2 separate regions of the Homo sapiens genome follow, and region 1 is linked to region 2. The links come from fine-mapping of genetic effects on gene expression. A gene starts in region 2. The other region holds a variant in brackets. All regions are shown on one strand. Distances are from middle to middle. Region 1 holds the start of CARNS1 (carnosine synthase 1). Region 2 holds the start of ANKRD13D (ankyrin repeat domain 13D).

Region 1 (4,372 bases), 130 kb after region 2:
CCGCAGCACTCTGTGCATGCATGCACGCATTCTGGCAGAAGATCCCGGCTCTGCCTCTCACCAGCTGTGTGACCTTGGGCAAGTCACACGACCTCTCTCAGTCTCATAATTGCTCCCTTGCATGTGAAGTGTTAAGCCTGGGCTGAGTGTGCACTGTATCCCCATTTGAAGATGAGAAAACTGAGTCCCCAGGGCTGCAGAGCTTGTTAAATGTTAAATGTCAAAGCTCATGCTCTTTGGATCACGCCCAGGCCCCACAGTGGGACCCCATGGGCGCTCAGGCCACCCAGGTGGCAAGCGATTGGGTCTCCTGGGGTGGTTGTGGGACCTGGGCCCCTCCCCTTAGTGATCTGAAGCTCACTCTCCCCAGCCTAGAATGGGGCTGGTTCCTCATTCCTGGAGCCTGGACCAGCTGTAGGGAGGGCTGCACGTGGGCCTGGAAGTTGTGTGGGGAATGTGGGCTGGACTGGGCATCCTGGAGAAGCCATTTCCCCTCTCTGCCGACCCTCTCCAGTGGTAGACAGGGATGGGTCTGCACAGACTGCCCTGTATATAGTTGCAGAAAGGGTCCAACAGCTGTCATCTCTGTCCCTGACATGTGTGGGCCCCTCAGTATTCTCCCCCAGGCCAGGAGGCTCTCAAGGACAGCCAGGGCTCAATATGTGTCCAGTTGCGAGACAGGCAGGGAGAAGGGCTGACTGGGGACTGTGAGAGGGAGGAGTTAGAGCCATAGGCTGCCCTGCCTAGGAGAGGGAAACCAGCCCCATTCTAGGCTGGGGAGAGTGAGCTTCAGATCACAAAGGGGAGGGGCCCAGGTCCCACAGCCAGAGCTAGGATTGAAACCCACTGGTGGGACACACTCCAGGAGAGGGGGTGAATCTCTGGTTGTGCTTCTGTGGGTGAATTGTGGCTGAGACCCAGGTCTCCTGGGGTATGCTTCTGTGGTTGGGTGGGTACACTTGGGTGTGAGTATGTATGTCTTGGGGAGATTATAGCTTCAACTCCGGGTGTGAAGTTGACCTGGGTGGGTGTTGATAAGCAGAGCAGATTTCTTTTCCTTTCTTTTCTCTTCTTTTTTCTTTCTTTTTTTTTTTTTTTAAAGAGATAGGGGGGCCAGGTGCAGTGGCTCACACCTGTAATCCTAGCACTTTGGGAGGCCAAGGTGACCAGATCATGAGGTCAGGAGATTGCGACCATCCTGGCCAACATCATGAAACCCCGTCTCCACTAAAAATACAAAAATTAGCTGGGTGGGCTGGGCGCGGTAGCTCATGCCTGTAATCCTAATACTTTGGGAGGCTGAGGCGGGCAGATCACCTGAGGTCGGGAGTTCGAGACTAGCCTGACCAACATGGAGAAACCCTGTCTCTACTAAAAATACAAAATTAGCTGTCATGGTGGCGCATGCCTATAATCCCAGCTACTCCAGCCTGGGCAACAAGAGCGAAACTCCATCTCAAAAACAAAACAAAACAAAACAAAACAAAAGTAGCTGGGCATGGTGGCTCGCACCTGTAGTCCCAGCTACTTGGGAGGCTGAGGCAGGAGAATCACTGGACCCGGGGAGGCGGAGGTTGCAGTGAGCCAAGATTGTGCCACTGCACTCCAGCCTGGTGACAGAGTAAGACTCTGTCTTAAAAAAAAAAAAAAAAAAAAAAGGGATAGGGTCAAAAAAAAAAAAAAAAAAAAGAGAGAGAGATAGGGTCTCGGCTGGGTACAGTGGCTTACACCTGTATTCTCAGGACATTGGGAGGCCGAAGCAGGAGGAGCACCTGAGGTCAGGAGTTCAAGACAAGCCTGGCCAACACGGCGAAACCCTGTCTCTACTAAACACACAAAAATTAGCCAGGCGTGGTGGCGTGTGCCTGTAATCCCAGCCACTCAGGAGGCTGAGGCAGGAGAATCACTTGAACCTGGGAGGTAGAGGTTGCAGTGAGCTGAGATCACACCACTGCACTCCAGCCTGGGCCGACACACTGAAACTCTGTCTCAAAAAAAAAAAAAAAAAAAAAAAAAGCGGAGCGAGCGAGAGAGATAGGCTCTCACTGTATTGCCCAGGCTGGAGTGCAGTGGCACAACCAGGACTCACTGCAGTCTCGACCCCCGGGGCTCATGTGATCTTCCCACCTCAGCCTCCCAAGTAGCTGGGATTACAGGCCCACACCACCTCAACCAGCTAGTTTAAA[T/A]TTTTTTTTTTTATAGAGACAGGGTCTTGCTATGTTGCCCAGGCTGGTCACAAACTCCTGGGTTCAAGCAATTCTCCTGCCTCAGGCTCCCAAAGTGCTGGGATTATAGGCAGCCACCGCACCAGGAGAGGCTGGATCTTATAGACATCCTGGCCCCTGTGTGCAAGTCCACTGGGTCCAGAAGTGAGGAGGGGGCTGCACAGATGTGTGGAGACCCTGGCCCAGGAGGGCCTCTCTGGGAGAACGTGCAATAGGGCAAAGCGCTGGCAGCTGGGACAGAAAGCTGCAGGGCTGGGACCTCCGGCCTCCATCCAAAGGTAGGGCTCAGGGCTGTGTGCTCCAGGCTGCTCTCCCGGGCACCCCACCCCTAAGGGCGGGCCCTAGTACCAGTCTCTGCCTGCTCCGGCTCTCCCCGCCCCTCCTTTCCATCTCTTCTCCATGGTGGGCCTCCCTCTTTCTTCATGGCAGCCCTACGTCTGTGACCCTCGACGACAGTCCCTGTCCATCTGTACCTGGCCCTCTGTCGGGACTTCCTCTGTGTCTCTGAAGACCCCCGTCTCTCCCTGCCTGCTCCGTGCCCTCCTCCTGCTGGGTCCGTGTCCCGCCACACGCCCCCAGGTCTGGGACGTTTTCGTGGCTGACGGGCGGGGGGGGGGGGGGGCGCGTCCCCGGCGGGTCCCTATCGGTCCCTGTCGGTCCGTCCGCCCCGCGCCGCCCCCGCTGGGCACTGGGCATGCCCCAGGCGTTTCTATATAAAGCGGCGCCGCTTGGGCCGGGCGCTGTGCCACTGCCACCGCCGCCGCCGCTGCATCCCGCCCGGTCCGAGTCCGCCCGCCACGCCCGCCGAGCCGCTGCCGCCGCCAGGTACCCCAGCTCCGGCCCCGCCCCGGGGAGAGCCAGGGAGGGGGGCGGCCGGGGCAGGAGTCGCGGGGACGAGGACCCCGGGCGCCCGCTCCCCGCGGCGGGACCCTCGACGCTACGCCCCCCACCCCCGGGACCCGGTGCCCCCAACTCCCCCCCGCGCTGGAGGGGCAGAGCCAAGCCCGGACCCCAGGGCAGGAAGGACCTGTGAGCCGCACTGGGGCAGGAGCCACTCGGTCTGGGCAGCAGAAATCCCTCCCTACCTTCGGGGTGGGGGTGGGGCTGCCTTGGCCTCTCTCTGCAGGGACAGGTGTCGGCCACCTCTCCACTCCCAAAGTCTAGGGGCTGGAAGGCCAGGCAGGGACTTGGCTGCCCTGACTCCTTCGTCTCTCTGTCCCTCTGTCTCTGCCATCAGTCTCTCAGCCACTCCACCCACGAGATGGTGAGTCTTCTGTGGTCCCTCCCCCACAAGGCCCAAGTCCCTGGGCAGAGAGTGGGCCCAGAGGACAGCAGGCAGCACCTAGGACCTAAGCCTGGGAGTTGCCCCCTGCAGACAGCTTAGACCCACGACCAGCTCCCCCACCCCCACCCTGCGGCTGCATCCTGGGAGGTGGGCACTCTTAGTGCCCTGTGACATTCATTCATTCCATGGCCCCTCAGGGAGCTCACCTTCTAGGAGACGGCACAGAGGCTCTGGCCCTGGCAAACTGGGATTCGAGCCCAGGCATGAGGCCCAGTCCTCTGCCGTCTGGGCCACAGCACACCATCTCCCAACAACCAAGAGATTCTCTTCGTCCCAGCCTCATCAGCCCCCAGGGGATGGGAGAGGGCAGGCACCAGGCAACAAGGTCCAAAGAGACCTCACGACTTGCTCAAGGTGGCCGAGCCTGTCCCCTGGAGGACAGACTCAGCTGCCAGGCCTGTCCAGGCCTGGGGACTGCAAAGAACAAGAATTCCATTCACACGAAGCCTCCCAGCAGCCCCATATTGGGGGGGCGCCAGCCTCAGAGAGGGGAGGGACGTTAGGTTTCATCCAAAGAAAGCATTTCCGTGACTCAAAATATCTGCAGGGGGGATACTGTCTAGCCTCCTAATGTTTAGCCCAGGGCTGGGCACACAGTAGGGCTTCAAGACCTACGTGGGGATGACAGTGGAATCACATTTAGGTGTCAGCACACTCCATGCCGGGTCATGAGACAGAAATAAGCCACCTCAGAGTGATGGCTGGGTTCGTTCATTCATCTACTCTTCAGTCAACAAACACTTACTGAGAAGTGGCTGTGTGCCAGGCACGCTTTAGGTGCTGGGGTTGCCTCCATGAACAA
Region 2 (4,372 bases):
GGGAACCCCAGCACTAGGCCTCTCCTCTACCCAGAGGCTTCTGGTCAACTTCCCTTTCCCCAGGTCCCTGCCCTAGCCCCGCGGGTGACTAAACAGATACATGTTGCTGCCCACTCCACACAGGGCTTTGCTGGGCATGGCTGGGGCCCATGGCCAAAGCACAGCATGCCAGGCAGAGAAGGGAGGCAGGCAGCTGGGCAGGGTACTCAGGGCTGAATACAAGAGTCAGGGGCAATGGCCTTTGAGCCAGGCCTCCAGCATTGGTGTGGGAAGGAGGGAGGACATTTCTGAGGCAGGGAAGAGCCAGGGACTCATGAGTGGCCCAGGCTGGCCGGAGGACTATAGGAAGGAGCCATGCCTGGAGGCACTGAATGCCAGGCTTAACCTATCCCGGAGCCAGGTGTGTGCTCAGGGCCTGCAGAATGAAGATACAAACGACATGGAGTCCAGACCTGCCATGCTCAGGGAGCCCTTGAAGGTGCGGAACAGGGCTGAGAGTGGTGAGAGCTGGCTCTAAAGTGATTGCCTGGTTACTGAGTACAGGATGTGGGGAGGGAGGTGAAGGACAGGAGGCAGGGAGACAAACCTCCGCAGTGGGAGAGGAAGAGATGAAAAGAGGCCAGACGGGAAGAACGTGGTCCAGCAGAAACAGGCTGGACTTGGGGCTGAGTGAGGCGGGAGTCTGGGGAAGAGGGTAGGTGTGGTTGGGTTGGCTTCGGACATACTGATGGGATAGCATGGGATCCCTGGGCACAGAGATGTCCTGGAGTAAGCTGAAATGTGGACCTGGGGGTGGCATCAGGGTGACAATGGGAACGGACAGTCTCTCTCCCAGGGATGTGGGGGTCAGGGAGAGAGAGGAGGCCGTGGAAGAGGGTTGAGAAGGCACTGTCATGGAATTAAGTGCCAGTGGGGAGCTGTGTTCAAGATGGCAGAAATCAGGAGAGGCTGGAACCAAGAAAGTCCTGTCGGGGTTGAGTTTGGAGAGGGCTCAGGGAAGGGACCGCCTCTGAGAAAAGGGGTGGCCAGGGAGGGCTGCAGTAGTGGTGAGCAGGTGAGCTCTGGGCATTCAGAAGCCTTCGGGCTGCTACCAACCCCAGGACCTCACAGATTGACACCATAGCGTGGGGTGGCAAAGTGACCCCAGATGGCACAGGCGCCATGTGACTACAGGGAGAAGGCAGGGTAAAAATGGCAATCAGGCCTTCCAGCCCAGAGTCTCAGAACTGAGGACGCCCTACAGCAGGAAGTGATGCTCAAGCTAGCTGGCCCTCCTCAATCATGTTCCACGTAGGGAAAGGGAGAATAGAGGGTCAGCCTTGGCCACCTAGCAAAACCAGGGCCCCAGACCCCAGGCTGGGCCTCCAGTAATCAAGGGCCGGAACTGAGCTGACGGAGGCCTGCACCCTAGTTCCGGTGTGGGTGGAGGGGCCGGCCCTGATTTCGAAACTCGCCTTCCTCTCCTGACGCTGGCAGCCAACCGCAGCCTCTGCAAAAGGGACTCGTGCGGCGGGCGAAGGCAGCCGTTCGCCGCGGGCGGTCCTCCGCCGGGACGGCTCTGCCGCTGCCTGGGCCTGCGCCCCTCTCTCCCCGAACTCCTATCCCTGACTTCAGGGCCCCGGGGGCCGCCTCCCCGCATCGCTGGGCCTGCAGACACCGGCCAGGTCCCAGGGGAAGGTGCTTCCCGCTCAGCCGGCAAGCACTTAGTGGCGTCTGCTCGTTGCTCGTCTCCAGGCCGGGTGAGGGGAGCCGGGGCGCCCCACTTCACCCGCACACCCCAGCAGAGTCGGTGACCGCGGGACCTGGGGTAGGAAGACCGGGGCGAGCAAGGGGATCCGCGGGGGAAACGCAGGCATCACGGCTGCAGCAGGACCGCGGCCCGCCGCGCACGCGCGTGCACTACCGAGGGGCCCAGTGCCCGCCCCCTCCGGCCCCGCCTTCCTCTTCCGGACCCGGCTCCGGGGGTCTGCGCAGGGCTCGGGGCGCCTCCTGCGGGCCGCGGGCGGAGCTGTAACCGGGCACCGCCCTCCAGGCCGCCCCAGCGGACCCGGGCCCGACCGAGGTCGGGGCGCAGACCCAAGGCCGGGCATCTCCTCGGGCGCTCGCGGTTGCTCTGCCGCGCGCTGGCCTGGCCGCGGTTGCCATGGTTGCGGGGGGACGGGGGCGCGCGCGAAGCCCCGCCCCGGCCCGGCGCAGCCCCGCCCGCTCCGCCGCCCGCCCCGCCCTCCCTGCCGCCCGCGCTGCCGCCGCCGCCGCCGCCGCCGCTACTGCTGCGGGGGCCGCGGGGGGCGCAGCTGGGGCGCGGCTCGGAGGGGAGGCTAGGGGGCCGTGCCAGGCCCGAAGCCGAGGCGGGGCCGGGATGCGGCGCTGAGGCCCAGCATGGCCGGCCCGGGCCCCACCTTCCCGCTGCACCGGCTCGTCTGGGCGAACCGGCATCGCGAACTGGAGGCCGCACTGCACAGCCACCAGGTGAGGCCCCGCTGGGGCACCCGGCCCTTCCCCCGGGTCCCCCACCCAAGGCTGTGGCCTCCGTCCTGGAGCCCCCCCCCCCCCCCCGCCCGCTCAGCTCCGCAGCCACATCCTGGGCCTTCCTCCCCTGCACGATCCCAAGCCCAGGTCACCGGCCCCTCGCGCCTGAGCCTCTGGCCTCCTCTCCCCTGCGCTGGGCCTTGCCCTGCTCGCCCGAACTCGCTTCCGCATCCTTGCTGACCCAAGCTGAGAACAAGAACTCTGGTCCTGGTCCCCAGGTTCCGCCAAACTCCTGACAACCTGCAGCTCTGCCTGACCAGGCCCCGCCGCCAGACCCCGGCTCTGCCCCTGCCTTCCCTCCTGCCCCCTCCTCTCCCCTGCCAGGACACGCAGGCCACCCTCTGCCATCTCCCTGGTCAGTCCGCCGTCCTTATTTCCCACAGCGATTCCCAACCCTGCTCGCCCTGGCAGCCTCCCTGCCTTGCCCTCTTCTCTCCTGCCCTTTGTGAGTGTCCCGTCTCCCCCAGCACGACATTGAACAGGAGGACCCCCGCGGGCGGACCCCACTGGAGCTGGCCGTGTCTCTGGGAAACCTGGAGTCTGTGAGAGTGCTCCTTCGACACAATGCCAACGTGGGCAAAGAGAACCGCCAGGGCTGGGCAGGTACTGCAGAGGACAAGGGGCTCCCCCTGAGGCTGGCAGGCGGGGGGCAGTGAGCAGCCAGGCCTGGGGTCATCTGGAGGGCTCCCCTCAGCAGCCTGGTGCCCGCAGTCCTGCAGGAGGCAGTCAGCACTGGAGACCCCGAGATGGTGCAGCTGGTGCTCCAGTATCGGGACTACCAGAGGGCCACGCAGAGGCTGGCGGGCATTCCGGAACTGCTCAACAAACTTCGCCAGGTACAGCAGGGCACAGTTATGGAGGTGGGGTACCATGGCAGGGCACCACCCTGGTTACTGTGCCAGGCCTGGCCTTGGAAAGGCACCCAGTTTGTGCAGTGTGCCTCCTGCCACCAGCAAGGAGGTCTGTCTATCTTGACCCCAGCCCAGGGTCACGTAGGAAAGAGAGACGGCCAGGCTCACGTGGGAGAGACTGGACCCTTTGGAAGAGAAGCCTTGCCAGCTTTGGGCCTCCTGAAGAATGCAGATTACCTGGAGCAGGGACTTCAGGTTGACTCGGTGGATTATGGCCTGAAACCCTGGAATACTTGCTACTACGCACCCTTCTGGAAGCACACGGAGGGGCCTGGCTGGCAGAGCATACTATCTCATACCCCCTACCCCAGGAGCAGGCTCGGAGGGAGCCACTGTGCCCCCTTTACAGAGTAGGACTCTGAGACCCAGTGGAAACAAAGGCTCCCCCAGGGCTCTGCACAGGCTCATGGCCAGGTTGAGGCTGGCCCTCCACCTCCAGGTGCTTACAGCCTCATTGTCTGAAGACCACTGTAGTGCCCCACTTGGCCCACCCTCTCCAGGGCAGAGTGGTTGGGCGTAGCTGAGCCATAGCAGTGCGTCAAGACTTGATGAAGGGCCAGGCGTTGTGGCTTACTCCTGTAATCCCAGCGCTTTCTGAGGCCAAAGTGGGCGGATCACTTGAGCCCAGGAGGTGGAGACCAGCCTGGGCAACATGGTGAAAGCCGTCTCTACAAAAAGTACAAAAATTAGCTGGGAGTGGTGGCACACACCTGTGGTCCCAGCTACTCGGGAGGCTGAGGTGGAAGAATCACCTGAGCCCAGGGAGGCAGAGGTTGCAGTGAGCCGAGATTGCACCACTACACTCCAGCCTGGGTGACAGAGCAAGTCTCAAAAAAAAAAAAAAAAAAAAAAAAGACCTGATGAAGGGCTGGGCTGGCTGTGGACAAGGGGCTCCCAGGCCTGCTGGAGCCAGCAGCAGGCAGGGCGCTGAC

The links. PIP is the estimated chance that this variant, and not a neighbour inherited with it, causes the effect.
Region 1: its variant is fine-mapped to the expression of ANKRD13D in whole blood (TOPMed, PIP above 0.99).

What each region holds. Positions count from the first base shown.
Region 1 is chr11:67,412,714-67,417,085 of GRCh38, forward strand. It overlaps CARNS1 (carnosine synthase 1), which reads left to right and starts at 2,965. Exons shown (of 10, transcript NM_001166222.2): 1 at 2,965-3,050; 2 at 3,463-3,489. The coding sequence starts at 3,487. RefSeq lists enhancers at 1-330, 3,703-4,372. The variant T/A (reference allele first, on the strand shown) is at 2,187.
Region 2 is chr11:67,287,082-67,291,453 of GRCh38, forward strand. It overlaps ANKRD13D (ankyrin repeat domain 13D), which reads left to right and starts at 2,222. Exons shown (of 15, transcript NM_207354.3): 1 at 2,222-2,469; 2 at 2,997-3,132; 3 at 3,241-3,365. The coding sequence starts at 2,380. RefSeq lists enhancers at 128-377, 1,128-1,337, 2,572-3,496, 3,497-4,372 and silencers at 1,558-1,627, 1,808-2,577.